Linked DNA regions of Homo sapiens. The protein of the gene in region 3 purifies or fractionates together with the protein of the main gene of each other region. This does not show direct contact. Each region holds a gene or a part of one and is shown on either strand. Other genes may lie near its edges.

Region 1 (6,935 bases), on a different chromosome or scaffold from region 3:
CGAGGAGATGGGAGCTCAGTCTCAAATCCCTCTCTCTGACCAACTAAAATTAGGGATTTTTAGTATAGCAAAGAAGAAATGTAACTATGTTTAAGAAAACATGAACTAGGAAGGGGTAAGGAAGCAATCATTTACAAAATATCTGTGGCCGGGCGCAGTGGCTCCCACCTGTAATCCCAGCACTTTGGGAGGCAGAGGCGGGTAGATCATGAGGTCAAGAGATCAAGACCATCCTGGCTAACATGGTGACCCCTTGTTCTCTACTAAAAATACAAAAATTAGTTGGGCGTGGTGGCACGTGCCTGTAGTCCCAGCTACTCGGGAGGCTGAGACAAAAGAATCGCTTGAACCCGGGAGGCGGAGGTTGCAGTGAGTCAAGATCGTGCCACTGTACTCCAGCCTGGCGACAGGGCTAGACTCCATCTCAAAAAAAAAAAAAAACCAGAAAAAGAAAAAAAGTATCTTCACCCTGCCTCCTCAATCTTGGCATAATTCCCCCTGCGAGTGGTTTCTGGGGTCTCAGTTGGCATTTAGTCACACATTGCACATATCGTGTGCACATCTGCACAGCTCAGCAGTGTCCTGGGTAGGCCTTGAAGGGTGATCTTCACGTAAGCCTGTGGCCTGAGCAAGAAAGCTGCACACGGGCAGCGGAGGAACCAGCAGGAGCCCAGTCCTCTGTGGAAAATTCCAGCACCACCCGCAAGAGCAGCTGCAGTGGAGACTGTGACCCGACAAGGATATATGCATGAAGATGCTGGTCTGAAAACAGACTCAGTTTAAGGGTGGCACTTTGAAAAAATATTGATAAATGTCAGTGAGAAAAAAATAATTAGAAACAAAATATATTTATTAGAAATATTACAGTCATTTATCATACACTTTCCTATGAATAGTTAAATACATCTAATTAGCATGTCATATCCAAAAGTGCTGGGTACAATCTAGTGTGCTCTTTATAGACACGAGGCCACAGATGTATCAACTACACTCAACTAATGTAGTTAAAGTTAGTGTGCTAAAAAAAAAAATTAGTGTGCTATTCAGGATGCTACAGATTTAGCAAAATTCTAACCTGGATCAGAGGAGTGAAATGCCCCGTGAATTGAGGCAACTGTAGATATTCGAAATGCTTCTAAAAAGGCTGTGAGGTTATGTCCTTTACTGCATGTCATTGGTAGGTCATCTCAAAATGGCACTCGAGCTTTGGAAGGGTGAGAACTATTGCTAGATTTGGTAGGGGGTCTGCATCTATGGGCCCGAGTCCTCCATCTCCACAAGCTGCCCCTCAGTGGGGAAGAGGAGGGGGAGGCTAAGGGAGTCTCCGTAACGTTTGTGGGCAGCAGGGAAGAGAACATGGCAGAGATTCCTCACCGCTGGATGGCTTGTCCCCTGGGGATGTGTGTTTTTATCTAACACCCACCTGCATCTACTTGGGTTGGTCTCTACAAAAGCTGTAAAACAAAAACTGAATGAAAAAGGAAAATAAAAGACTAATATTTTTGAAATGAGAAGGGGCTAGGACAAGAGAAGCTCCTGAGAATGTTATCCCCGCAGGGCGGGGGCCATGGGTTACCATCAGACAAGGAAAATTCAATCCATGTTCAATGCAGAGAACAGCGACTTCTCACCTTGAAAAACTCTCCAACTCTACTGGGGCTTGCATTTTGCAGCTGTCTTTCATGTAAAAATGATACATTAAAAAAAGGATCTTCAGAACAACTGAAGAATTTTAAATGACTACTGGCTGAGGGAAGATGGAAAGAAATGTGGCTGTTGTGGTCTTTGAAATCCTCAGGACAGAAACTGGGAATGGCACACTCTGCTGAGTATAGAAAAAATAAGATGCTGACCTTGTTTTCCTGCCAACTTTCCACCTTCACCTGGTGCTCTGAGCTCTGTTAAAAACAGACCTAAAAACCCTACCCCTTGGCCTAGCTGGGTTGGGGACTGCCTCCCCCAGGTCCTGCACCTCCACACGCCAGCGGATGGCTTGGGGGAGCCCTACTAGCTGCTGTGCTAGAAGGCCTATTCCTGGACTCCTGAGGCCATCAGTCACAGTTCCAGGACCCCAGCAGAACCTTCCCTTCCCCAAAACACCACCTGTATTTCTTTTTTTTGTGTGTGTGTGTGACAGGGTCTTGCTCTTTGGCCCAGGCCAGAGTGCAGTGGCACAAACACAGCTTACTGCAGCCTCAAACTCCTGGGCTCAAGTGATGCTCCCACCTCAGCCTCCCAAGCAGCTGAGATTACAGGTGCCTATCATTGTACCCAGCTAATTAAAAAACAAAATTTTGGGCCAGGCGCGGTGGCTTACCCCTGTAGTCCCAGCACTTTGGGAGGTTGAGGCAGGCTTATCACTTGAGGTCAGGAGTTCAAGACCAGCCTGGCCAACATGGTGAAACTGTTTCTACTAAAAATACAAAAATATGCCAGGCATGGTGGCATGTGCCTATAATCCCAGCTACTTAGGAGGCTAAGGCAGGAGAATCTCTTGAACCTGGGAGGCGGAAGTTGTAATAAGCCAAGATCACACTACTCTAGCCTGGGTGACAGAGAAGTGAGACGCTCTCTCAAAAAAAAAAAAAAAAAAAAATTTTTTTATAGAGTCAGAGGTCTTGCCATGTTGCCCAGGCTGGTCTCAAACTCCTGGGCTCAAGCAATCCTCCCACCTCAGCCTCCCAAAGTGCTGGGATTATAGGCATGAGCCACCATGCCTGACCACCATGTGTATTTCTATGGACAGGACATGGCATTCCTCTTCTACATGCACACCACTGGCAAATAAAAAAAAAAAAAATGGTAGTCGGGGAAACTCCTGGAGTTGTAAAAATAAATTGTACATGGCCTTTCATGTTTCTTTCCTTCTTTTTAACCTAAAGAGAGCAGGATACAGACAAAAATGGGGGAGTTTGGCCACAGTCATTGGCAACTTGGGCTCCCAGTGGAGAGGGGCTGGTATGGCCCCAGCGGGGAGGGAGGGACACCGCAACGCCATTGCTCAGAGCTGGTTCTAGATGATTTACACGTAATCACTCAAAATAGAGCCAATCACAGGCCAGGTGTGGTGGCTCACTCCTGAGTGAGCTGAAATCGCGCCACTGGCACTCCAGCCTGGGCGACAGAGCAAGACTCTGTCTCAAAAAAAAAAACAAACAAACAACAACAAAAAAAACACAAAAAAACAGCCGGGCTCAGTGGCTCATGCCTGTAATCCCAGCACTTTGGGAGGCTGAGGCAGGCAGATCACCTTGCCATCAGGAGTTCGAGACCAGCCGGGCCAACATGGTGAAACCCCCTCTTTACTAAAAATACAAAAACATTAGCTGGGTGTGGTGATGGGCACCTGTAATCCCAGCCACATGGGAGGCTGAGGCAGGAGAATCGCTTAAACACGGGCGGCGGAGGTTGCAGTGAGCTGAGACGGTGCTATTGCCCTCCAGCCTGGGCAATAAGGATGAAACTCCATCTCAAAATAAATAAGTAAAAATAAAAAACAGAACCAATCACAGAAAACACCCACTCCCACTCCGGGTATCCCAAGACAGCAACTGCCTCCCCACATAAAACCCTGGACTAATTCCAGCTTAAATCTAACAACCAACAGCTCAACTCAACTACTTGGGATATTACTTTCCCCCACTTTAATGGTGGGCAAAGAAGAAGTACAGGGTTAATAAAAAAAAAATGCTTCAAACAAGTGCCTGAATCAGCAGAAGTAGTAACTTTCAGGTTGAATTGGTTCTATGTGTCGAGTTTCATTTAAATACAAAGGCATGGGTGATGTAATGACCATCGCCCAACAGCTGCTCAGGAGCTCCCGCAGGCTGCCTGCCTTGTGGCTGCCAGGGGAAGGTGTCCACCCCTCAGTGGTTCTCCAAGCAGCTGTGCTTCAGTCGCCTAAAGAACTTACAAAACATGTGAACTGCATCTCTGGTCCCATTCCAGACATTCTGAAGTTAACCAACTAGGGCAGCCAAGAGTGTTTTCAAAAGGGTCCACTGTAGGTTCTGATGCAGAGCTGCAGCTGGGATGCACTAACAGGGGGGCGGAGTTCTTGTCTCAAGGTGGCTTGAGAATCAGGGATCTGCTGACCCGTGCAGCCCAGTTGCCACCTCTGCAAAGGTCTGGCTTGGAGGAAGGGACTGAGCTCCTACCTCTCCAGGAATGGTAAGGGGCTGGACCTGCAGCCTCTAGAACCTGGCTCTGAACCAGTGGCTCAGATCAGCAATCAGAGATGTACTTTGAATAGTAATGGCAGTCACTGTCATTCTCGGTGACTCACTGGAAGGATGATCCTTTGTTGGAGGGGCGCTAACACGCTATTTGGCACTTAAAACAGCAAGGGATGGGCATTACCCATTTCCCTCAAACAACTGTGTGAGCCACGCCCTCACTCGCTGTGTAGTGCACACAGATCCGCCCAGAAGAACACGGCAGAGCCACCAGATGGGCACTCGGGCCGGACTGAGCACTTCTGAGGGACTGGGGCACCGCTGGGGAGGGCTCTGCTGCCACTTAAGGTGACCAGTAGGATGCTGGGGCAACTGCATTCTTCTTTGTTAGTTATAAATGTGCCCTCACCGCCCACCCCTAAGGGCTTTTCCCATGCCGATGAAAGAGGCCTGGGGAAGCACTAAAGGCCAAATCAGTCCAGAGCCGAAATACTGTTGGGATTTGCTGTCAGCCCAGCATCCCCAGAGGCACACACCCTCAGCCTGCTCAACCCTGTAAAGCAGACACAGGCCATTCACACATGTGACCTCCTGTCAAGTTCTGTGGGGTACAAGCCTGTGTGGATGTGAACGGGAGGGTAAACGAATGGGAGGACAAAGGCGCAGGTGACGAGGACTGCGGTTTCCCTACTGTGAAAGCCGCGAGCTGCTCAGGAGCACACAGACTTTGGTGGCAGAGGTGTGGGGCACCTCCCAGGGACTCCAGCAAAGCAGCCAGGGGCTCCCTTGCATTCTCACAGGCTTTCCTTTTGCTACAATAAATCAAATAAGGGATGGTGAGAGCTAAAAGTGAATCAAGTTCCAGGTGTTAACATTGTTACCTAGAACTCCCATTTTTCCCCAAAAGGCTGAGTGCGCACGCACGTTTCCAGGTTGCCCTGGAACAAATGTTTATTTTTTGTGTTTTGTTGTTTTTTTTTGGGGGGGGAGGGGGGAAGGGAGGGTTCACAAGGGCAAAGTTTTGGGTTTTATCATTTTTTTGAGACAGGGTCTGGCTCTTTCACACAGGCTGGAGTGCAGTGGTATGCTCATAGCTCACTGCAGCCTCGAACTCCTGGGCTCAAACGATCCTACTGCCTTGGCTTCCTAAAGTGCTGGGATTACAGCCACGAGCTACCACACCCAGCCAAGGGCAAAGGTTTCATAAAGGCAAAGCCGGGATATTTTTAACAACAGCAACCAAAAGACTGATTTGGAGATGTTCTTTGTCTGAATTTCTGCAGATAATGTGTTCGTTCAGCCACCCAATATAATCAGCAAAACAAGCCTGGGTGTGGGGTCTTGGTCTGGAAGGAGGGAGGCTGCCCTCTTTAGAAGCATCCCACAAGAGATCAAAGAGTCCCCAATTTACAGTCCAGCTGCATTTGCATTTCAGACAGGTACATCGTGGGACCCACTCTGTTTCTTATTTGGGTGTTGGTCCACTTGGATTGAGCCTGTCTTTGAAGTCTAGGCAGCTGGGTGGTGGGCAGAGCAGGGTCAGTGGACAGTAATCAGGCGCTTCCAGGAAAAGCTGCAGTAGGTGGCAATGGTGGCTGCCCCAGGCCCTCCAGGGTTACGTCTCAAAGTACTTGTAGATTTGGGCCACGTACTGCATCACACTCTGCCAGTCGGGCCGGTCTGTGTACAGCATCTCGCTGAGTTCCTGCAGGGGAAGGGAATGGGGGACAGATCACAAGGCAGGACATCACAGACCCCTTCCCCTCAAGGACTTCAGTCCAGGTTAGGGCTTACACTGCCTGGAAACCCTCCACTTACACAGACAGAACGTGAAGGCCAGCACAGGTGGTGCTGAAAGCGATGAGTTAAAGGACTTTTCCTCCCACTTATTCAGGAGATACTGTCCCTTTCCAAAAACGGAAAACATGACCTCCCACTGCTTTTATCTTTTAACCATATGACAGCATTTAAACAAGTTTTAAAAAGCAAAAATCACCCATAATTTCACTATTAAAATGATTTCCAAGTTTCTAAATTACATTTGAATCCACCTCTAATTCCCCAGACTCCCAGCACACTGCACGCGCTATTACGTGGGCTGTGCCATTACGTGGGCTGAGCATTTCACACCCGGGTCCCCGTGCTGCTGTGCCACTGTGCGGGCTGCCATTCTAGTGAATGTGCACTCACCAGGGAAACTGCTGTCCACAAGGGACATGGCATCCAGTGTACGCTCACCTCGTGACCACCACAGACTCTGCAATCAGCATCTTTGTGCAGTATTGTTTCCTTCTGTCGAACTAGTCCCTCAAGATAAATTACTGAGTGGGATTATCACAAAAGCCTTGAACCAATTTCAAATGCAACCATTTATTTTACCAGCATTGTTACTACTTAATGTGTTTTTTTGTTTGTTTGTTATTTAATACAGTTTGGTGATTTTTTGGCTTATTTTTATTTTACTTTTGCTAATTTGCTGGTTTTTACTGACTGATTTATTTTTGTTCATTTTGCAAGTAAGCTTGTAATGAGCATGCATAACATCCAGGCCAGAAAGGGAGGGGCAAGAGGGTGGGCATCCTGTCAGGCACTCAAACTTTTCTGAAATTTGTGCCACTGGACATATTTAATAATTAACTTTGGGATTGAATTTGGATTCTGTGTGGTTAAAAGAGAATAGTAGGAAAGGACCCTGATGTAAAGCCAGAAGCAGAGATGCCATGGAAAAGTAAGGCTGAACTTAGCACATCAGTTCCTGGG
Region 2 (7,767 bases), on a different chromosome or scaffold from region 3:
TGGCTGCAGTCAGCACCAGCGCAGCCACAGACACAGCCACGACCACGTGGGTGAACACAGCCAGCAGCTCCAGGTCGCCCTCCAGCCTCTACAGAGACAGGGATGGTTGATGGGTTGTTGGGCAGAATCCCCGTGTCCCTTTGACCCCCCACTTCCTTGGGACACTGAACACAGCCCCACCTCACGGGGAGAGGCATCCATGAGGACCCCAAAGGTCCCTGTCCGGCTGCAGCGACACCGTGCGTGGGACCCATTCCTGTGCACCAGCTCGCAGTCCCGTGCTGTCCACACACCATGCTGCTCCGCCCTGCAGCCACAGGGCAGTTAGACACAACTGTGACCCAGTGTCAGGCAGGGGTTTGTGAGAGATCATGGGAAGGGCTGAGGGTGCCTGGAGTTGGGGTACAGCATTCCTCATGGTCCGGGTTGCACAACAGCACTAGTGGGGGCCCCAGGGGAAGGCTGGGACTATTAGTTGGCCTCCCAAGGGCTAACGGGACCAAGGGTTTCCAGAATGGGGGTCCTCACAGGCCAGGTGGGTCCCACTGCACACAGATCGCCTTGCTCCGATTCGCTGTCTGTAGCAGGCGAAACTCTAGGCTGATGGGGGACTCCAGGATTCCCCTTAGGAAGTTGCGTCCGTGGAACACAGCCACGCTGACCACCGGGGAGTTCATGACGGGGTTCTGAGGAAGCCTGGGGAGACACCCATCTGGGCTTACGCACTGCTGACCTCCCCATGCTCAGCCTGCTTGCCTCACCCCGTCTTCATGCCACTCGCCAGGGCTGACCCAGGGTCTGGGATGTCCCCAGAGTGGAAGCTGTTTCTAAGAATCCCTCCAGCTTCTGCTGGGCTGCTGAGGGGCTGAGCAGCTCCAGGGGACCTGCAACTGTTTGCCTCTGATTGCCCTCCCTCCTACCCCCATCAGTCAGCCTGTCCTTGTCTGTCTCTGTCAGCCCTTTGGTCTGTCTGTACCTGGCTCATGGATCCCTCCTGTGTGTGGCTCTGTGTCTGTCAGCCTGTGGCTCTGTCACTCTGCACAACTCCAGAGAATAAGATTCACACAGAACCCGGCAAGGATGGGGCTCCCTGGAGCTGTGCTCCTCTCTGTGTGTTGTGAACCTACGCATCTACCCACCAAAAAAGGGGCTGCCAGGCTGAGAAGTTCGTAGGAAGCTCAGGGGTGAGGGGCCTGAGTACCTGGCACCTCGGCGTTCTGCCTGGAACTGGGCAGGGAGCAGTCCCCCTAAGGTGCGGTAAACGAGGAGAATGATAATGGAGATCCCAGGCTCTGGCTCTGGCGGGGCTGGTGGGGGGACCACACTTGAGGTGGTGGAGTTTTCTATGCTGCTGCTTGTGGGCAGAACTGCCAGGAGAGAAGGAGGAGCTTCTGTCAGTGACCTTTGACCCAAAGCACCCACCAACCCAGCTCTGAACCCGATCAAGCATGGGGGTCTCTTCCCTGCAGGAGCAGAATTGGGGAGTGCAGGGAGCATGAACCCAGAAAGTAACAGTCAAGGCCTGGGAGGGGTCATTTGTGATGAGGGAGAGGCTCTGACAAAGTGAAGGTGTGGCAAGGTGGACAGTGGAGGGGAGATGTGGGAGGGAGGGTGGAGGGGAGATGTGGGAGGGTGGAGGGGAGATGTGGGAGGGTGGAGGGTGGAGGGGAGATGTGGGAGGGTGGAGGGTGGAGGGGAGATGTGGGAGGGTCGAGGGTGGAGGGTGGAGGGGAGATGTGGGAGGGAGGGTGGAGGGTGGAGGGGAGATGTGAGAGGCAGGGTGGTGGGTGGAGGGGAGATGTGGGAGGGTGGAGGGTGGAAGGGAGATGTGGGAGGGAGGGTGGAAGGGAGATGTGGGAGGGAGGGTGGAGGGGAGATGTGGGAGGGTGGAGGGTGGAGGGGAGATGTGGGAGGGTGGAGGGTGGAGGGGAGATGTGGGAGGGAGGGTGGAGGGGAGATGTGGGAGGGAGGGTGGAGGGGAGATGTGGGAGGGAGGGTGGAGGGGAGATGTGGGAGGGTGGAGGGTGGAGGGGAGATGTGGGAGGGAGGGTGGAGGGGAGATGTGGGAGGGAGGGTGGAGGGGAGATGTGGGAGGGTGGAGGGGAGATGTGGGAGGGAGGGTGGAGGGGAAATATGGGAGGGAGGGTGGAGGGGAGATGTGGGAGGGTCTGACACTGGGGAGGTCTAGAAAGGGGAAAATTGGCAGGAGGGCAACATAGTATCTGGTTGGGGGGACAGAGAGACAGGACTTGGCCCAGGGGTCCCCTAGGGGCTCTCACCTTCAGATGGGGATGGCCGTGGGGACTGGGAAGGCAGCAGCACATGGGTGTGAGGATCCCAGGCATCCTGGCCTCGAAAGAGGTTGCTATGGTAGCGAGGGTAGCGACGGGCCCCCCGGGGAGAACTGGGGTGCTCCATGCGGTCAATGCTGAGCACTACCCAGGAGAAAGAAAGGGGAGGCCCATCATGGACCTCTTCCCCCTGCCAAGGGTTCTACTCCCTCTTACTCGCATCCCGCACCTGAGTCCCACAATCTGTTTTCTGTGCTACCAGCTCGGAGCCTGTCCCTACAAAACGCTGAGGGCGGTGGCTGAGTCTCCTGCCATTAACATTGGCATTGATAGCCACAGCCCCTCAGACCTTCAGGTACCTGCCCTTTCATGGCCCCCCTGCTGTGCCCCGCCCTACCCCACCCACAACGCACTGATATTAGGCGTCACCAGCCCCATGGGATTCAGGTATGTGAGTTCCATATTCCTTGCGAGTGTGGCTGCATACTCCTCCAGGTGCCTCACCAGTCCCGCGCTGCCTGGGGAGCCCCCAGGGGCCCGCTGCCCCAGCGCCGCCCACAAGTCCCCTGTCTCTGGGGCAAGCAGTGCAGAGCCGGCCCACAGCAGATTCTGGGAAGACAGAGATAGAATTGGGTTCAGCCAGGTGGTGAGGATGTATGAGGGGATAGGGCAGGCATGAGAGGTCTGGACAGGTGCTCAGAGGGGCTCCAACAGGCAAGGGGGCGGGGCTGGAGAGGACAAGGACAGAGGGAGAGCCCAGGACCTTCACTTCCCAAGAGAACAGCAGGAGCCTGAGCTGGGGATCCAGGGGCAGGAGGCTGGGAGCTGGGGGGCCAAGGCACTGAGAACATAGGGCACAGCCCCACCTCATTGAAGTGGGCATCCTGTGTGGCTGTCAGCCCGAAGCCCTGCTGATGGCTCTCGAAGGCCAGCAGGTGGGCCAGCAGGCGGGCAGTGACTCGAACATCTTGGCTAAAATAGTGGTCAGTGTGGCCAGTCACCTCCCGTAGCCGCTGAGCCAGCTTCTTGGCCTCCATGGTATCCAGTGCCGTCTTGTTCAGCTCTAGGCCATCCAGCTGCCAAGACAAGGAGATGGTTGCTCTGTGGTCCCTTAGGCCTTCCTCTAAAGCTTCACAGGGAGAAAGCCTTGCCAGATTAAAGGGCAACCAGGAAAGGCTCAGGAGTTCAAGGGCTAGGGTGTGGTATCTGGGGCCCACCACAGGCCAAGGAAGGTCTTAGGTTGCAGGAAAAGGTCTGGGCAGTCTCACCAGCAGACTGAGCTCTCGAAAGGCAGGGGAGGTACAGTTGAAGAGGTCGGGCTCCAGCCAACCCTGGGCCTCATCACACAGCCGCACAGCAGCACCTGGAGGCAGGCAACCCCTGGTCAGGCCTGGGGCCTGGATACCTTTGCTGAGGAGATAACCGCAGCACCCTCTCCTATGCTGGGGGAATCCCTGAGGCAGAAGTCAGAGTCATGAGCATCTATAGCTGCACCCCTGGAGGTAGCGGCCCAAGCCCAGGTAGGCCCCAGCTGCTTGTCAGGCAATTCCTGAGAGGGCTGTAGACCATTCTCAACCAGCAACCACACAAAGCACAAGGGTGGGGCTGCACACACTCACCCACGTGGGCCAGGACTGGCTCATAGATGTGCTGGTTCACACAGACACACACCAATGCTCACCAATTACACACAGATGTATGGACCAGACCAGTACGCAGACACACAATGCTCTCTCGCACACACACAGACATGCCAACACAGAAGAGGGCTTCTAGGAACATCCAGTGAAAGTCAGGTGGGAGGATTCTCACACAAGTTTTAACTGCCCCAGTGGTTACTTTGCTGTCATTTCTCTCCCTTGTCTCTGGGGTTGGGATGGAGGTTGAATGAGAATTGACTTGGATCTTAAAAAAGTTTGTAGCTACCAACAAGAGAGAGCCTAACTTAATCACAGAATCCCCTCCCCGCAACAGGTTCACAGACACGTGCACAGGCACAGAGATACACACGTGAGCATGCGTACACAAACAATCTCTGTCCAGCCACTGCAGAGACCTCAAGCAGCAGGGAGTGTTCTGAGGGGACCTCAGGCAGTGGGGAGGGGCCCCCAAGCAGCAGGAAGGAGCTATAGGGTCCTCAGACTGAGGAGGGATCTTTCGTGACCTCAGGCAGTGGGGAAAGTTCTATGGGGACCCCAGGAACTGAGAAGGGGTCAGCAGGGTCCTCAGGCAATGGGGAGGGGTCTCTGAGGATCTCAGGCATCAGAGAAGGGCCCCTGGGGTACTCAGATAGCCAGAAGGGGCCTGCAGGGACTTTAGGCAGCAGGGAGGGGTCTGCAGGGACCTCAGGCAGCAGGAGGGGTCTGCAAAAGCTCTGGTAGTGGGAGGGGGCAGTGCACCTGAGCAAACACGTACCCCTTACCTGCACCCCGCAATCCTGCCCAGAAGCCAAGAGAAACAGATGGAGGCTCAATGAGGGTGTAGGGAGGGGCCCACATGGACTCCCACCCCACTTCCACCTCTTTGCAGGAACAAAGCCACCCAATTTAGGAAAAGACATGGCTCTAGCAGTCAGAGTACAGGCCCACCCCCACCCTCAGTGATGTCCTTTCCCCCCACATACTCACCCAGGGCCCCCCGGGGACAGGGCACTGTGGCCAGGACGCCAAACTTTGTCTGGGGCCACCACACACCAGATCTCAGGGACTTAGGGCAGGCATCATAGAGCACTAGAGAGAGAAGAGGTGCTGAGCCAGGCAGTCAGGGTACAGGGCAGTTGACAGCCACACCCACTGCCCCTCCACCACCCCCCACAAGGCCCACTGCCCGCCACTCCTGCTGGCTTCTCAGGAGCTGACCTGTCAGATTCTGTGACAGGTCAGCAAAGTACTTGGGGCAAAGGTAGGGTTCCCTGGGTGTAAGTGGTCTCCCTCAGGAGAAGCTTCCAGAGTCCCCAAGGAGCCATGTGTGCCACTGACACGTGATGGTGGCACACTGGAACCAGCCCTCTATGGGTGGAGCTGGGTGGAGCCTGCTCACCCCGGCAGCCGCTGGCTGTCACCTCTGCGAAGGGACTGTCACAGCTGTTGCACTGGCGGCCAAGGGCTCCTGGGCGACAGGGGCACTGCCCGCTGTGGGGTGCACATGAGCGCGAGGTGGAGCCCACAGGGTAGCAGTCACATGGGAGGCAAGAGTCACTGCCCCGCGGTCGGTAGTGGAACTCCTGTTTGAGGATGGGCCAGGGGCCTGAAGTCAGAGGTCAGGGCTTGGGGAATGAGTGGAATCAAGGATAAAGGGTCAAGAGAACAGTGCTCATGGGCCAGAGGACACCTGGGTCATGCGTGAAGCCAAGGGAGGGGTCACGGGTAAAGGATGAGAGACAGCAACTTGGTCACAGGACACAGGCAAGAGGTTAGGGCCCAAGTCAGGTGGCGGAGGTCAGCAAGCTGGACAGGAATTGCAGATTGCGTCCAAGGAAGGGTTAAAAGGTCAGGGGCCAGGCGCACCTTGCAGTGACACTGCCCATTTGTCTTGTTGCAGTTGGGATCAAAACCTTTGTGAACATCACAGTTGCAGGGGCCACAGGTTGGGCTCCCCCACCAGCCCCGTGGGCACTGCTGGTCCATCCTGGGGGTGCAGAGCCAGGTAAGATGCCTCCACGGTATCCCAGTGACCCTCCCTGTCCCTGCCAGGTCTCCCCATCGCCTCAGCCCCAGCCTCTTACCTGTGCTCACAGTGGTGCCCGAAATAGCCACCCACACAGTCACAGGTATAGCCATGGGGGGCTCCTGGCAGGTGCCGGCATGATCCCTGGTTCTGACAGGGGTTCAGGAGGCAGGCATCCACACAGCCTGGGCCGTAGTAACCTGCAGATTGGGTCAGAAAGCTCAGGATCCTGGTCGCAGAGCATGGAAGGAAGCAGGCACCCGTCCCGAGTCCCTGCCTCCTTCAGGTTCCCCAGTCTTCATCATGGGCCCCTAACGCCTGCCCAGGTCACCCTTCCCCCAACCCTCTCAAGGCTCACCTGGCTGGCAGGTGCAAGAAAAGGTCTGCCAGAGGTCCCGGCAGTCTGCGTGAGGTGGGCAGGGCCCAGAGGCACAGGCGTTGGTCACAACACAGCCAGGCTCCGCATTCACTCGGTGGCTGGGGGGTAGCAGGGCCGGGGAGCCAGAGGGTGTGGAGCCGAGCCACACCCCCTGTGGACACACAGCCAGCAAGGGGTGAGACCATGTTAAGGCACCTCAGCCTCAAGTACTGCAGAGCCAGCCACCCGGTCTGATGATCCTTGACATGCAGTCTTCTGATACCCTCAAAAAACCCAGGCCTCAAAAATATCCCCAATTTGGTACCCCTGTGGGACCCTAATTGTGCTGTTTCTGACACAGATTCCTAAAGGCCCTTGATAATCCAAGCTAGACTCCCACCTCCAATGCCACAGAAAGGCTTGACCTAGCTCTCAACTCTGGGTCATTCACCCCCTCGCACCAACCCCCACTTGAATACTGCCTTTCAGGTCCCAAGGAGCCCCTGACTTCTGACCCCTGACCCTAATGCCCCATATCACATTCCCATGCTGACCCCCACCTGGATGCAGCCAACCAGACCCTGAGGAGCCTCCTCTGCACTGCCGGGGGGCAGGCCTCCCACGTGGAGCTGCTTTACCTTCAGGCCCTGCAGCTCACTCCCCACCGCCATGGTGTCCTGGAGGAAGTGGGGCAGTCAGCACTGAGGGAGAGGGGCCTGATGAACCCCTGTCATAGCCCAGAGTCAGTCTTGGCCTTCTTCTAGCCCTTCTAGGCTGCCCCCTCCCTCCTGGACCCACAGTAGACCTTAATATTGCTTGATTTTGACCGGGGGTGGGTAGAGACTGGGGCAGAGACTAGAAGGGGCTTCTAGGAATCAGGCAAAGTGCTGGCTACAGAGGTTCCCCAAGACCAGGCCCCAAATCTGGCACAAAGAGGGCTTGAGAGTGGACCAACTTGGCTGGTGGGTGGGCTCAGTGCAAGGATATATGGTGGGGAACTAGGGGTAGAACATCAGACTCAGTGCAGTGGAGGGAACTGAGAGGAGCTGGACTAGAGGTGGGGTCAAATAAGGCGGATCTGGTTGGAAGGCTGAGAACAGACTACCCCGGGGTCAGAGGCCAGACCTGGAAGAGGCTAAAGTCCAGTGAGACCATAAGGACATGGTGGCCCCGCCGGCCACCTGGTTCCTCCTGCAACTCCAGCCGCAGATCGTGCCACCGGCCATCACTGACAGTCACCTGGTCCAGAAGGAGATGGGAAGCACGGCCCGAGCCCCTGGTCACTGTCACAGACAGTAACCCCCGATCTAGCTGTGGGCAGAGATGCATAGCCCTGGGGTTAGAGCCCCATGTGGGCTGGGACTTGGAGGTGAGATCAGAGGGCTCAGAGGTCAGGAATATCAGAGGTCAGAACAGTGGGGTCAAGGTTATACCTGGCACAAAGGGCACTGT
Region 3 (8,259 bases):
GCACTTTGGGAGGCTGAGGGGAGTGCATCTCTTGAGCTCAGAAGTTAAAGGCCAGCCTAAGAAATATGGTGACGATCCGTCTCTACAAAAAATACAAGAAGTAGCCGGGCATGGTGGCGCACGCCTGTAGTCCCAGCTACTTGGAGGCGGAGGTGGGCTGGTCTCTTGAGCCCAGGAGGCAGAGGTTGCAGTGAGCTGAGATCCTGCCACTGACCTCTAGTCTGGGTGACTAAGACTCTGTATCAAAAAAAAGAAAAGAAAAGAAAAAAAAAAGGCCGGGCGCAGTGGCTCACACCGGTAATCACAGCACTTTGGGAGGCCGTGGCGGGTGGAACATGAGGTCAAGAGTTTAAAACCTGCCCGGCCAACGTGGTGAAACCCCGTCTCTACTAAAGATAAAAAAAAAAAAAATTTAGCCGAGCGTGGTGGTGGGCGCCTGTAATGCCAGCTACTCGGGAGGCTGATGCAGGAGAATTGCTTGAACCCGAGAGGCGGAGGGTGCAGTGAGCTGAGATCACACCATTGCACTCCAGCCAGGGCGACAGAATGAGACTCGGTCTCAAAAAAAAAAAAAAAATTGGGGGAGAAAAGAAAAAATTAAAAATACAATTAGTCGTATTGCATAATAACGTAACTAGTTTAAGACTAAATAATATTGATATGGTTACATAAAACTAAAAAAGTACATGCAAATGTAAATAGCATTCTTACTAAAAATTAAATCCAAAGCTATTTCGAAAGGTGGAGTTTTCTTCACTATTCTTCCCAAGACCTTTTGCCTGGATATTAGGGATAACCGGTTTTAGGAACTTGAATTCATTTGTCTCGGAACCTCCCGTCAGACACACCTCGTACTGGTAGCTCTGGGAAAGGGTCCCGGTGCCGCTCACGTCCACCAGATGCCCTGGAAAGGGGCCCTTAGGCACCGAGCAGCTTCCCACCGAGGCCGCCCTGCTCCTCCTGCACAGCCGCACCGCCACGAACAGGAGCACCGAGAAGAGGAAGAGCGAAGACACCGAGGCCAACGCCACCACCAAGTAGACGGTGAGCGAGTCGGCCTGGGCCTGGGCCGGTGCCGCCTCAGGGAGCGGCAGGTAGGGCTGGGAGAAGCCGTCCACCAGGAGCACTTGCAGCGTGGCGGTGGCCGAGCGCGGAGGCTCGCCATTGTCCTTGACCAGCACCACCAGCCTGTGCTTGGCCGCGTCGCGCTCGCTCAGCAGCCTGGCGGTGCGCACCTCGCCATTGTGCGCCCACACGCCGAATAGCCCGGGCTCCGTGGCCTTGAGCAGCTGGTACGACAGCCAGGCGTTCTGGCCCGAGTCGCCGTCCACCGCCACCACCTTGGTCACCAGGTAGCCCGGCTCGGCCGCCCGGGGCACCAGCTCGGTGCAGGGCGCGGAGCCGTTCTGCAGCGGGTACAGCACGAAGGGCGAGTTGTCGTTGGCGTCCAGCACCAGCACGCGCACCAGCGCCTCGCTGCTCAAAGCCGGGGAGCCGCGGTCTGTGGCGCCCACGCGGAAGTCGAAAGCCTGCAGGGCCTCGTAGTCCAGCGACCTGAGGGCGAACAGGTGGCCGTTGTCTGTGTTGATGGAGACCAGGGAGGCGAGGGGCAGGTGCAGGTCCTGGGGCGGGAGTAGCGAGTAGTTGACCTGGGCGTTGGTGCCTGAGTCTCTGTCTGTAGCGCTGACACTGCCGATGTGCAGGGCGGGGCTGTTGTTCTCGCGGACGAACAGGGTGTAGGAGGTTTGGGTGAAGGTGGGGGCGTTGTCATTGACGTCAGAGACCAACACAGTTGTGTTGTGCTCGGTTTTCAGCCTGGGTATCCCCAAGTCGGTGACGGTGATGGTGATATTGTACTCGGCTGTGCTCTCTCTGTCCAGTGGTCTCTCTGTTTCCAACGTGTAGTAATTCTCAACTGAAGATTTTAGCACGAATGGGAGGTCTTCCGGAATGGAACAAACAATTCTTCCGTTGTCCCCAGAGTCTATATCTTGGATACTAAAAACCATAACCACGGTCTCTGGCGTATTTTCTGGGATTGGACTGGTAATTGATGACACAGTGATTTCAGGAGCATTGTCATTTACATCTATCACGTGAATTATGACTGTAGATTTTCCAAAAAGTCCTCCCCCATCTGTGGCTTGAATGATTATTGAGTATGACTCAATCGTTTCAAAATCCAGAGGTGCTCTTAAAGTAATTTCTCCAGACTTTTGATTAATTTCAAATGTCTTGCGAATATCTTCTGAGGCATGGGAAAAGGTATAGCATATTTCACCATTTGTTCCAGAGTCTAAATCCCAAGCTGAGACAATCAAAATCAGCGAGCCAAGGATGCTATTCTCCCGAATCTTCACCTCATAAAAAGCCTGCTCAAATTCAGGGGAGTTGTCATTAATGTCCACAACCACCACCCTGACCAAGGCAGTTCCAGACCTGGGAGGGGACCCACCATCCAGAGCAGAGAGGATGAAACTGAGCTCCGGGAGCTCTTCATAATCCAGCGCCTTGTCCAGAACTAACTCGGGGTATTTCCTATTGTCTGGAATGACTCTCATTTTAATGTGAAAATGAGAGTTGGGGCTTATTGTGTAGCTTTTTACAGCATTGATTCCTACATCTAAATCCTTCGCACTTTCTAGTAAGAACACAGCACCAACGGGACTGTTCTCTGGGATTTCTAGGAGCATTTGTTTTTCCGAGAAGATGGGAGAGTGATCATTTATATCCCTGACCTGAAGCTCAATTTGTAAAAACTGCGTGGGGTTTTGCATTAACACCTGCAAATGTAGCACGCAAGGCTCGATGGAACCGCAGAGCTCCTCCCTGTCTAGTGTTTCACTTAAGAGCAAATCCCCAGTGTTTATGTCCAGCTGCAAACGCTGTTTCTTATCATTAGAGACCACCCGAGCCCCCCGTGAGGACAGTTCTCTCACCTTCAGCCCCAGGTCCTTTGCCAGATTGCCTACAAAACTCCCGCTCTGCATTTCTTCTGCCACAGAAAAGCTCCAGGTTTCAGAGCCCGCCTGAGACATTCCGAGCAAAACAAAGAGAAGCAGGACTTGCCTTATCTGCTGAGTGCGTGTCCCTTGGTTCTCCATAGTTCCTTTCTTGTAGGCTTCTTGAAGAAAGGCTTCAGCTCTGCGGAACGCGTCTCTGACTTGTCCACCAAATCCTCTGTGGTCTAAGGATTTTAACCCTGTTGAATGGTTTCCAGGTCACCCTCTTGAAGGCTTGTTGTTTCTGTCTTCTGATTCTCTGTGTGCACTGGATATCAGTGTTCACAACGCCATCCAGTGAATATATTTTTCACGATGTTATCCTGCAGCGCCACCAAGTGTCTCCATAGATTTTCACAGTTTGGTGAAAGCTACCTAAATTCCATTCACTTATATGTCCTCCGGAAACAAATATTGTTTTATTCATTGTGTTCAAGTGATTACAAATATATTGCACGTTCTGTAATAATTATTTCATATTCTCTTTAGTTTGATATGCTGTTAATATTCATCTTAAAGCATTTATCTTTCCCCCTTCTCCATACAACCAAACGTGCTTAGTTGTGGTGAATACAGAAATACAAGATGTGATTCCTGGCTCCCAGTGGTTTGTAATCTTTCTGAGAAGACTGGAAACATAAAACAACCATAATATTTTTAAGCTGTACAAAATTCTATCACTACTTGACTTTCCTTAGGTGGTAATGAAAAGGCAAACTATACATGGGTCATTTTAGAAGTCCTCTCAGAGGATATGAAACTGGATTAACCATGAGATGGGACATACTTTGATAGTTATGATAGCACAAGAAGGCATTTATATAGATTTCCTTGGTAGCAAGGAATTGTGAACTGCTAGAAAGTAAAGTAAGATATTGGGAGTAGAACACATTATGAGAATCCTTGATTTAGTTCCAGCTTCTCAAAAAATAATAAATACACAAGCACAAGCATGTTAGTTTCATTTAAAGCAGGCTTATTTCTAAGACTGCCCTCCCTCAGTTTCCCAAGATTTATTCCAGCAACATCTATGGCTATCTGCTTTGTTTTTCAGCTCAAGAAGACAGAATGAGAGATATTTTCTTCCTCAATAATAGAACAAAATCTTAGCCTTCATTCTGATTAGACCAACTGAGAGCACTTCAGCCTGTTACTGAAGAAATCAGTGTCTCAAGATGTATAGGATTAAAGGTAGAGATTATAGTCCCAGAATCTAAAGACTCCATCTTTGACCCTTTGTTTTAATCCAGGCAGAGATTGCCCCTTAAACTTGAGGTGGTTTCAGTCCTAGCCAAAGTGCATGGCATAATGAGGGAGATAGTTGGAATAGGTGCTTGGAAACTACCAATGGTATCCACTGTTAGACATCTCAAAGTACTCTCAATAATGGAGGACATCTAAGAAGTCTGCTTTTAAAAATTCTAATTTCAAATTACATTCACAAAAATGTGAACTAGATACATGGTTGAAAAATTATCAGTGCAGAAGAGTAGAAATTGAATAGTATGTGGATTGACTATACAATTATCCTTCCTTCTTCTTAACCCCTCTCTAAAATGACAGAAAAGTAATAAAAGGTATGAATTCACAAAGACTAAGAATACATAAGTAAATACACAAATTATTTGATGATAGAAAGCAGATGAAAGAGCAATTGACAATAGTTCCAAGAAATGTCTAAAATAAAGTTCCTTCATTGGAGATACTAAAAATAAACTACTGGGTTTTCCCTACACAATCCTAGTAGGTACCAGACTTGGAGGAACCAGGTGTATAAGAAGGCTGAAGTCAAGTAAGGGCTTAAAAAAGAAGTTATTAGTTGAAAGTATGTATGTAGGATAGTTGAATTCTCTGGTCTTTTCACCATCATACAGAGACAAGAAAATAACTGAGAGCCAGAGAATGGAAAGCTTATACTCTGGAGAAATTAGATTATATTCTGGAGAAATTATACTATCTCCAGTCTTGGAAACCCCAGGCAGAGCTGAGTGAAAGTAGGAGGTATGAAACTAAAGATAGGGAGATTAGGCAAAACACTGCCTTCTGTATTGTGAGACTCCTAGCCATGATACTCTCAGATTGTAGGACACAAGATATATGCCTGACATCTTCCCCATCGCACCCAAAACATTGAATATTGTAGAATTCTATCCTGGGGAATATGAAAGGCGCAGATAAAGACTTACATGTACTGATATGTGGGGGTTTCCCAAGGTAGTAGCTCTATCCTAGCATGGTTACATTAGAGTGAAGCCCTGTCATCAATACTCATGAAGTGTTGACTGTCAGCATTTGCTGTGTCACCATTCATATATATAATAAGACAGTCAAAGATAACAAGACATTTGAGAAAATGCCTACAACATGAAATAGAAAAGCCAAAACTGTAATACTACCGCCAAGCACAAAAAGCAACAGGAGGGAATAGATATAATTCAGAAAACAAAAGAAAGCCTTTTAAAATGTCTGATTAGTATCCCCAGAGAAACAAAATGTAATAAGAGCTAACACTTATTGACTTATTCTAAGTTCATTATTCTAGTGCCTCATATGGATTTACCTAGTTGATGTTAACAGTAACCCTATCAAGTACGTATTTATACCTGGAAGACAAAGAATAGCTTAGGGCTTAAGTGCCCCTTACTAGCTATATAGCCTTAGGCAAATTCTTAACTTCCCTTTGATTCACTTGCAAGTTTAAAATAGGTATAATAATAACTCTTACTATATAATGCATTTTTAAAGAATAAATAGATTAATTATAGATGAAAGAAGATTTACATTTGCAAATTTGTAATAGGATGTTATGAAAAACCAAGAGCTCTTAAAAATAAATATTTGCTATCCAAAAAGAAAAACTTAAATATGGAGATTGGATGATTAAATAAATTGTCTAATAAGTAGAACAAGAGATGGAAAAGAAGAAAAAAATTATAATTTAGAGTCTCAGAAAATCAACACAGGAGGTGCAATATTTAATGAGATTCTGGTTAAAGTGAGACTGTAGAAAACTCAATGGATAAATTATTACTAAAACATAACAAGAAAATTTCTCAGAACTTACAGTAAGAGTCTATATGTTAACAGGGTATGCCTGCATGGCCAGATTAATAAATAAAATGCCTGTATTAAGGTCTTTTCAGATTACCAGGAAAAAGTTTTTCAATGCTTCCAGGAAAGGAGGTAAGAGAGAAGGACACAAAGAGAGATGGAATCAAAATCAAGTCAGTCTTCTGAAGAAACTCGACATGCAATGAGTAAAAGAGACAGCTTCAGCTTTCAAAATTTGAGGGAAAATTATTTTCAAACTAGAATTTTATACCCAGTCAAACTATCAAGCAAATGAAAACAAACAAAAAAGATGTCTTCACAATGTAAGGAGACAATTTTTTAAAAATCTCTTCTGCATTCGTTTATATGAAGGTCTTGAGAGATGCGTGCCAGCTGAATAAGAGAGTAAACTAGAAAAAAGAGTATACTGGACCTTGGAAAAGTAGACTCATACAGGAAAGTATTGAAGGGAAAAAGTCCCAGGGTAACAGTCTATAGATTAACCAGTCTAAATGAAACAGGAAACTCACGATGAAAGAGCTCCTGAAAATAAATGTCATTGACAGAGTATCTTAAAAATTGGAATATTTTTAAGGAGAAAATACATTCAAATGAAAGATATGGAAAAAAACAATAGAGGTACATAGAAAATAATGCAAGTATGAAATAACAATTACGAACTCTAGGAACCATACTTTTCAAGTATGGAAATGTAATTCTAGTACAGTATACAAATGCATATTCTGAAGCATGTAACAATATAGATAATAACCACTAATTTAACTAAGAAACTGTGACATCTATATTGGAGAATAGGAGAAAAAGAATTTGCAATGTTTGCATATGTTTGTTAGTTTGGAAATAAAGCTAAAATGCTTTTCTATTATAGAAAGAAATGGTTCAAATACAAAACAATATCAAGATATAGTATTATAAACATATTATTTATAAATATTGAGATCAATTCAAGAAGAAACCACACTGTGGTAAGGGACTGGCAGAACAGCTAACTTAAAAAACTATAAAATGTTAGTTATATATAGTATATATTTTATATATAGTAATATAAAAAAACTGATGAAACTTGTTTTTCATTCTAACCTTTAGTTCCTCTTGCTTATTAAAAATTTGGTATTTAAAATAAATTTGCAACATATAAATGAATATCTCCAGCAATCTCAACCACACATTTCAAAATGTTTTATTTTTATTCATTTTCAGGCAGATTATAATTTTATTTCAATTATAAGGCATAGTCTGTTTTATACATCAGCAAAAGTTAACATAAGAAAATATTGGCCAAGTAAAAGTAGCATGCTTAAAGATAAAATAATAAGTATATAAACTAAGGGTATTATTGATGTTCAGTATTGCTCACAATATGCTTTGTTTCATTTTGTCATGAGCATAGTAGTAGAGAAATATTTCTTTTTAAATACATGATGTAGAAATAAATGACATGGTTTTCAAACACGAATATATAGAATGTTAGAATGAGTTTGGAAATGTAGATATGCCTTCTTAAATAGAGCAAGTACACTATAGACAGAAGTGATTAGAATCATGAGATGCAAGCTCTGAAATGAATCAAAACCTCAGATTTCTGTAATGAGATATAATAGTAATTAATTCCTTGGGCAGTTGGAAAGAATTAAAACCTTAACACTATCATTTAGAAAAAAATACTCATTAAATTAAACCCAGTTGTTATTAATGCAAAAAAATGATGAAACATTGTAAAACCACAGGGGTATACTACTTGAAAATAATGCTTGAAGTTGCATAATAACTTAAATTTGAGATTTAAAAGTAAACTAATAGAAACATGGCTATGTAACACACCAAAAGTATATGAAACTAAAAACAGACTTTACTGAATATTAAATCCAAAGCTATTTCGGAAGGTGGAATTTTCTTCACCCTTCCTCCCAGGGCCCTGTGCCTGAATATCCGAAATAACTGGTTTCAAGAACTTGAACTCACTGGTCCCGGGGCCTCCCGTCAGACACACCTCATACTGGTAGCTCTGGGACAGGGTCTCAGCGCCCCTCACGTCCACCAGATGCCCTGGAAAAGGACCCTCGGGCACCGAGCAGCGACCCACCGAGGCCGCCCTGCTCCTCCTGCACAGCCGCACCGCCACGAACAGGAGCACCGAGAGGAGGAAGAGCGAAGACACCGAGGCCAACGCCACCACCAGGTAGAC
Region 4 (7,264 bases), on a different chromosome or scaffold from region 3:
ATAATTCACAGTTACAGGCCCTCAATATTTTATCAATATATACTATCTAGACATCATATTGAGCATGCTATCAATAAAATCATATGGGCAAATAATCATACTATATTCACCTATGTAGCTACAAGATAGAAGTCACGAATTTTAACACTCCATTAGACTATTGCATCTGAAAAACTTACAACTGCCAACCATCAAAGCACAACTAATTTATCATCACACTCACACCATTCTTCCAAGTTACAAGGTCCAGTCCTAACACTTCTGATGACTCAAGAGCACAGAACAATTATACCTATAGAAAAATGCATATCCAAATTTAACCTTAATTTTTAAAGAATGGCTTCTTCTGATGTGTATTTTCTTAAGGATTAGACAGCAATGAACAAGGGCATACAATAGGAATACTTGATTCACCACCGTGTTCTATAACAAGTTGCATTATTATAATAAGTTTCTTTTTTTAAATAAACTCTATATTCTTGGTTTAAATGCTTACTATTCAAACTGCCCCCAAGAGCCAGTAACTGCCCACACTGACCCAAGGTGGTTTTAGTGAAAAGTCACCCATCAAGTTGCATTATTATAGTAAGTTTCTTTTTTTAAATAAACTCTATATTCTTGGTTTAAATGCTTACTATTCAAACCGCCCCCAACAGAGCCAGTAACTGCCCACACTGACCCAAGCTGGTTTTAGTGAAAAGTCACCCATCTTTGGAAACAAGGGCTTTTTCCACGAATATGCTAGAAATAGCAGGTGCACCATTACACAAAATTGGAGAGAACAGAAATTTACCTCACTCCTACAGACCATTTCTCAGAGCATGCTGTGTAGTTGCTAAAATCAGTATGCTGCGTAAAAGTTAAGAAAAAATGTATGTCTAACAGTGGTTCCCTATCAACTAGCCTCTGGTAGGCACTACATAAAATGCATTAAGACGGGTTTGCTGGATGTTCTGGCACCTATTATCAGGTGATTTTTTAACAGAGATGTGAAGATGCTTTTAGCAGGAGAATGGGCACACCAGAGAATACAGAATGTGGCTAATTACGACGAGAAGAAGATTCTGCCTTCACCTCCCCTCACTGTCAACCACTTTGCGTAAGTGCTCTCACTGCCTCGCCCTAACCCTGGGGATCCATTCACTTTTCATAGCTCAGAGAGGCTGCTGAAAAGCTGTCAAAGTAAATCTGTGCTCACTTTTTGGATGGTTTAATTTCAATGGAGCATGAAACACCCCAGGACGGTTAATAAGTTTAGCCAGGCGTGCTGTTATCCCTAATATATTTTAATTATGCATCTGTTTTAATTGTAATCAGATTAAGACACCGGAAGGACACAAATTGGAATTTTCCCTAATGGATATAGGGGCTTTTCATCACTTTCTGAACACTAATAACGTTTAAAAGATAGGAAGAGACACCAACACAACGGTGACATTTTCCAGAAATCGATGCAGTTTCTTTGACAACACAGTTCAGGTCTCATTAGCCACCCAAACTAACCTAAGTGCAGAAGACAACTTCAGTCTCTAGGGGCGTCTTCTTCTCCAATTAGTACAAAAGAACCACTAACATCTAATGTACAACTCCCAAACAGAAATGAGAAAGCCGAGGCTTTTATAAAGTGCTGCCCAATGGATTGGTGAAGGAGGCTAGGGCGGCGGGAGAGACCATCAGCAGCATTATTTTGGCTCAAAGTAAAAGTCTATACACGTTAAAAGGGAAAGTTAAAGCAGAGAACGATCTCCCTTTTCACAATTTTGGCAACTATCAAACGTGTGTTTTAACTTCGGGAAATAAAAGTGTCCCATCAATAAAAGGAAACGGGACAGGGAGGATCTATCAGGGATCGAGGAGAGGCTTCCTCCCAACCAGACGTAAAATCACTTAATGTGCTTTGTTGCATCAAGGAATACCTAAGACTTTAATTTAATACGTTCATTAAACAGTTTCCCAAATTGCCGGGATTTCCGCTAAGAAACTCAAGCGTCTGCCAACAGCCGAGAAGCAAGGGAGAGAACCTGCTGCAAACTAGGAGCGGAAACTCCCTCGGCCCGCCCAGCGCGCCTCACGTCCCCGGTGTTTGATTTAGGTGTTAATGTTTACGTGTCGCCTAAACCATCAGGTGCTGAACCAGTTCCTCCAAGACGCACTTTGAGCCTTAAAGAGGGAAGCTTCAGAGCCACTGCGGAGTGTGCCCCCTGCAGCCCGTCGCCCCCTCCTCTCGGCCCCTTACCTGTCATCATAGCAGAAATCCGCACTCAGGGTGTTGAGATACAAGGCGAGCCCCAGAGCGCTGCTCACCAACTCTGCAATCATCTCTCCACCGCCTTCCCTCCGGCTCGGCTCCCAGCGCGAGGGCAGCAGCGGCAACAAAAAACAGAAGCATCAATCTCCACCTTCCGCCGCCTTCTCCTCCCAGCTTCACTTTTCCCTCGCTTCCCCACCCTCCCTCCCTCGGGTCCTTCCAATCCACGACTCCTCTCCTCCTCCTCGCGCCCGTCTCCGCAGCTCCTGCGTCCTCCCCGGGTGCGGGCTCACACCACACTCCCCATGCCCGGCGCCCGCAAGCGGTGAGCGGCGTTTGGGCTCCGCGTCCCCCGGCGGAAGCGCAGGGCTGGTCTTTCGCGCGGGTCGCGATCCCCACCCTAACCCATGGCAGTTTGGGGCGTCCTAGGTGAGGAGTGGGACTCGGAGGAGGTGGAAGGGTGCGGGATGGGGGCAGAGGGACCGGACCAAGCCGGGCTCTGGGACCAGCTGGAGGAAGAGAGAGAAAGAGGCGCGGGTGGGAGGGACAAGGCGAACCGCCTCCCCTCGCCGCCTCCCGGGCGCACTGCTCCGGTGTCGCTCGGGCGGACTCCGGCCGCCAAGGCAGCTGCTGCACATTCAATGTTTATTAGCTCCCTCCCAGCCCCAGCCCCAGCCCCAGCCCCAGCTCCCTTCTCCAGTGAAGTGAGAAGCGGTGGCTGGAGACTCCAGAAGCTCCCGCGTGGGGTTCTCGACGCGGCCCCCCGCGCCTGCGTGACCAACCCTCCATCCCGGCTTGGCCCAGCCCCTTTCTCCACCCAGATCCTCCCGGAAGGCTCCTCCTACCCTGCCCCTCGGGCTGGAGGCTCCTCCCACCCTCCCCGGCCTGGAGGCTCCTCCTACCAGCCTCCCGTCCTCTTGTTTCTTTCACCTTCGATTTCACTCTGGAAAGCCCCCGGGACCCAAGGGCGACGGCTGGAAGACAGCCCAAAGGAGTAGATACAGTGCACCCTGGGAGGGGAAGCTGGGAGAAAGGAGGTCGAGGAGGAGGTGGTCGGTCGCCCCGCTGCTGCCTGGCAGCGCCTGGCACGGCTGAATCTCAGCCACAGCGCTGTGTGTGCCAAGAGCTGCCAGGCGTAAGTCCGGTCAGCTGGAGAGACTTCTGAGACCGGGAGAGGAAGAACAGGTTTGGCGACTGCTGCAGCTTCGGTTGTCACAAACTCACTGGCGATCTCTCACGCACACTGTGTGTGAGACTAAATGGGGGGGAGGAGGTAGTATTGGAGAGCTTGGAGGCAACTTAGGAAGGAGAGATTTCAGCTCTTAGCCTACGGTTGGCCACAATGTCAGTGGAAAGACGTGTAGGGAGAGAAACGTTTCCTCCTTCAGTAAGGTTAAAAAGAAAGGACCCCAAAAAGGGAAAGAAAGACACACACACACCCCGCAGCAACTGCCCGGGGACCCCTTCGTGGTTTCAGAGGGACTGTCGGGTTGACCCTGAGAACACAGGAGAGAAACCTCTAGTGCAAGCCGGTACAGCATTATACTTAAACCTAGTAAGGCAGTAAGCTAATGCCCTTTCCTTTCCGCTCGGAGGCAGGACTGGATGGAAAGCATCCAACATGGTGAAATATGGTGTAGAATGGTCTGTGTAGAACAAGCTCTGGGTACTAAAGTTGCAAGACCAAAGAGGACCCAGGGCTGCCTGACACGCCTCCTCCCGGCTTGTTGGCTTTCTGGCCAGGAGAGTAGCTCCGGTGCACCGCGATGTACACTACTGCAGCGCCCCCTGCTGCATAGTAACCACAAGGTGTGGAAGACAGGTCTGTTTTGCATGCGGGCCGACTGGTTCCAACCAAGAGCAGCACCTAACCAGCAAGCTCTCCGAAACTGTGGCAAGAAATTGAGCCCCCTGGGTGTCTAGCAGTGGCCTGGAAAGAAAATACCGTGGTCTGGGCTTCTGTAGAACAAAGCTACATATTTCCCTGATTTCACAAGGAAATCTGAGAAATCTGTATTGGATACACACAGATAAAATGATGAATATTTATTAATATTATACCTGTTATGCCATCCACAGTAGCACATTTTTTGTGCCCTGGACAAATATATGTAAACAAAAATAAAAGGAATTATGTCTTTACAGGTAGGGACTGATCTTTTACCCTTTTCCTCCATAACCTTTGCTCACTTGAAAATTTTGAAAATCATATCAGTTAGTCCATCCTGATGCTCTGTGTCTCTCCAATGCACTTACATGCTGAGATATATATAGTATATATAAAATATGTATATGGTGTCCTAGAACACTGAAGGAAGAACACATACTGTGGGATCAGATGTTTAAGTTTGAGTGCATACTCTGCTATTACTATTTGGGCGATCTTTGGCCAGTCGTTCAACCTCTTTGTGACTCTGTTTTCTAATCTATGAAACAGTGATAATAATAGTACTTATCTTATGAGTACTGTTATTATGAGTATTAAAGTAGTTAACCTATGTAAAATATCTAAAAGGGACCAGGAAAGTGCTACAGAAGTATTAGCTAGTATATCATTATTACTATGCTTTCTAGCTTCCTCGTTTCATTTTACTTGTTAACAAAAACCTGGACAGTTACCTCCAAAACACATCCTATCACATCTTTACTACTTGAGTCCACAGCCCAGCTGCCCTCATCTCCTGCATAGACAAATGCAGTAGCCCTCTAAGTGGTCCCCGTACTTCTACCCCTGCAATGCCTCCCTTCCCCAATTTTAACTTTAGGCAGAAGTTTCCTTTGAAAACCTATACATTCCCAATTTTTAAATGTTCCACAACTTCCTGTTGTATTTTTAAATGTCCAACAACTTCCTGTTTTACAGCTAATAAAACTAATTCTTACCATGGCCAGCCAAGCCTTCATTTAGCCCAGACTACCCCTCCCGCTTCATGTTGTGTTCATATGTGTACAACACAGACATCCTTCTCAGGAACTAACCACTTTCTCTTCCTCCTGCATGAGGTTCTTCTCCTCAAACCTTCTCTAGCTCCTTCTCACCATTCAGGTCTTAGCTCAAATGGCATAACCTCAGAAATAAAGTAGGCTCTCCCCCATCAATCTCTATCCAACCACCATGTATTAGTTTCTTCATAGTATGTATTAGTATCTGGAAGCACCACTGAGTGGAAGCTCCATGAGGTCAGGGATCCTGTCAGTCTTCTTTTCCACATAAAACCCAGAGCCTATAACATCTGGACACGGAGAAGAAACTTTAAAAAGATTGTTAATAAATGAACAAAATAAATGTGCTTAGGAGAAACTACGTAACAGCTGGAAAATCCAAAAATTTTCATCGCTGATTTATTGTTTGTCGTTAGTGTTAAAGATCGTGAAGTATTAACCAAGGAGAGAGGAAGGGAGCAGGTTCACAGTTTTTCAGAATACATCAAGTCTGCAGGAATACCCGTGAAGGGGAGTCACATGGACAGGTCTCTTCAGTTATTAAGAGGACTCAGATATGTAAAAATATTAGAGAGCTTTGGGTTCCACATGCTAAAAGCTTGTAAGCCTTTTCCACAGCTGTGTTCATTTTTAAGGCTCCAATAGTTTAATTTAATTTTTAATTTTTTTTTTTTTTTGAAACAGAATCTCACTCTGTCGCCCAAGCTGGAGTGCAGTGGCCCGATCTTGGCTCACTACAACCTCTGCCTCCCGGGCTCAAGCGATTCTCCTGCCTCAGCATCCCCAGTAGCTGGGATTGTAGGTGTGTGCCATCAAGCCCGACTAATTTTTGTATTTTTAATAGAGACGGGGGTTTTACCATGTTGCCCACGCTGGTCTTGAACTCCTGACCTCAAGTTATCCACTTGCCTTGGCCTCCCAAAGTGCTGGGATTATAGGCATGAGCCACTGCGCCCAGCCATGGCTCCAATAGTTTTAAATAAATTTTATACACTCCTCCATCTCCTCGTTTTCTCCTTTCCCCACCTCCCAATACCTCTGAATTGGAAGCCTAGGTGACTGGGAGATGGGCTGTAAAATGGCACATCTTGCCTTCCCTGATAAACAGAAGGCTGAAAACCTAGCTGTGTTTGAGAAATCCAGTTGCTTTTAACAAATTTTTCTATTATAATTTAATGTAGGTTTCAATATCCTTCCAGAGCATTAAGCCATGGTCTCTTTTAGATTGCTCTCCAAGGGCTGAGAAGCAGCCAATTCCTGAATTTTCTACCTTCCTGGAACAACTTTAGGAGGAAAATCAGATTAAAGATGTCATCATTATTGTTGGAGATCATTTAAAATCTGAGGACATAGGTTTTTAGTTTATCAAGGTGTACTTATTTGATGTAAGGTTGCAGCATCAGTTCTGAATATGTGTATGTTCTATTTAAAGCGACAGTTGCTCTCCACAGGTGAAGGAAATTAGGATGGCTGGCTTGAATTTTCTACCTTAGACACAATACTGGCCAAAAAAGCGCTAAGCCCTTATTTTCCTGAAGTAGGCTCCACACATCTGCTACCTCACCACTTCCTCAATGAATTCCTTTTTATAGTAGCCCCGACCTACCCTGCATTTGTTCTGCATTCTCAGTCCTTTGTTGTATAATTCATACCTTTGCAGTGCCAGTTCCTCAGGGTAAAGATTTCCTTATTTGCCTAAGACATTTTTAGTTTATTGTGCAATACTATCTTCCCTTTGGGTGTTGCATAAATATTAACTAAAGATCCACATCTGGTCCTGGTCGTCATTTCTATTTGTCCTAATATAACTTCTCTTTGAACAATTCATTTGGAAAGTGTGCCAAGGGTGAAATGTGGCACGTAAATTCTCTTGCTGCACAGAATGCTTTTTAAAGTGCCCACAGATTTGGTTATTTATGAGCAGGAGATTTGCGCCTCTTCCTTGCTCTCTCAATTCTAAAATTGTACTGGGCCAAAATAATTACAATCTTCCATATGTTTTCTGAAAAGGTATCCAAGTATCTCCTGCTAAAATTTTAACAGATTGACTAAGAAGCAGAAAAACACTAGCCC

The links.
Region 1: the proteins of PCDHB11 (region 3) and SPECC1 purify together in Homo sapiens (co-immunoprecipitation; 3 studies listed by BioGRID and IntAct, with this or other methods). This does not show direct contact.
Region 2: the proteins of PCDHB11 (region 3) and CELSR3 purify together in Homo sapiens (affinity purification with mass spectrometry; 2 studies listed by BioGRID and IntAct, with this or other methods). This does not show direct contact.
Region 4: the proteins of PCDHB11 (region 3) and TMTC2 purify together in Homo sapiens (affinity purification with mass spectrometry; 2 studies listed by BioGRID and IntAct, with this or other methods). This does not show direct contact.

The regions. Positions count from the first base shown.
Region 1 is NC_000017.11:20,312,921-20,319,855, reverse strand, and holds the end of SPECC1 (cytospin-B), read right to left. Parts: intron 5,881-6,935; coding exon 5,791-5,880; 3' UTR 830-5,790; downstream 1-829.
Region 2 is NC_000003.12:48,645,562-48,653,328, forward strand, and holds part of CELSR3 (cadherin EGF LAG seven-pass G-type receptor 3 precursor), read right to left. Parts: intron 7,627-7,767; coding exon 7,441-7,626; intron 6,993-7,440; coding exon 6,876-6,992; intron 6,488-6,875; coding exon 6,316-6,487; intron 6,158-6,315; coding exon 6,016-6,157; intron 5,919-6,015; coding exon 5,798-5,918; intron 5,515-5,797; coding exon 5,331-5,514; intron 5,021-5,330; coding exon 4,919-5,020; intron 3,655-4,918; coding exon 3,560-3,654; intron 3,368-3,559; coding exon 3,158-3,367; intron 2,901-3,157; coding exon 2,705-2,900; intron 2,436-2,704; coding exon 2,280-2,435; intron 1,368-2,279; coding exon 1,202-1,367; intron 697-1,201; coding exon 529-696; intron 308-528; coding exon 181-307; intron 89-180; coding exon 1-88. UniProt on the Homo sapiens protein: Receptor that may have an important role in cell/cell signaling during nervous system formation.
Region 3 is NC_000005.10:141,194,620-141,202,878, reverse strand, and holds the start of PCDHB11 (protocadherin beta-11 precursor), read right to left. Parts: upstream 3,253-8,259; 5' UTR 3,105-3,252; coding exon 711-3,104; 3' UTR 1-710. Other genes in the region: PCDHB10 (protocadherin beta-10 precursor), read right to left, coding at 7,924-8,259. UniProt on the Homo sapiens protein: Potential calcium-dependent cell-adhesion protein. May be involved in the establishment and maintenance of specific neuronal connections in the brain.
Region 4 is NC_000012.12:82,682,642-82,689,905, reverse strand, and holds the start of TMTC2 (protein O-mannosyl-transferase TMTC2 isoform 1 precursor), read right to left. Parts: upstream 3,001-7,264; 5' UTR 2,320-3,000; coding exon 2,237-2,319; intron 1-2,236. UniProt on the Homo sapiens protein: Transfers mannosyl residues to the hydroxyl group of serine or threonine residues.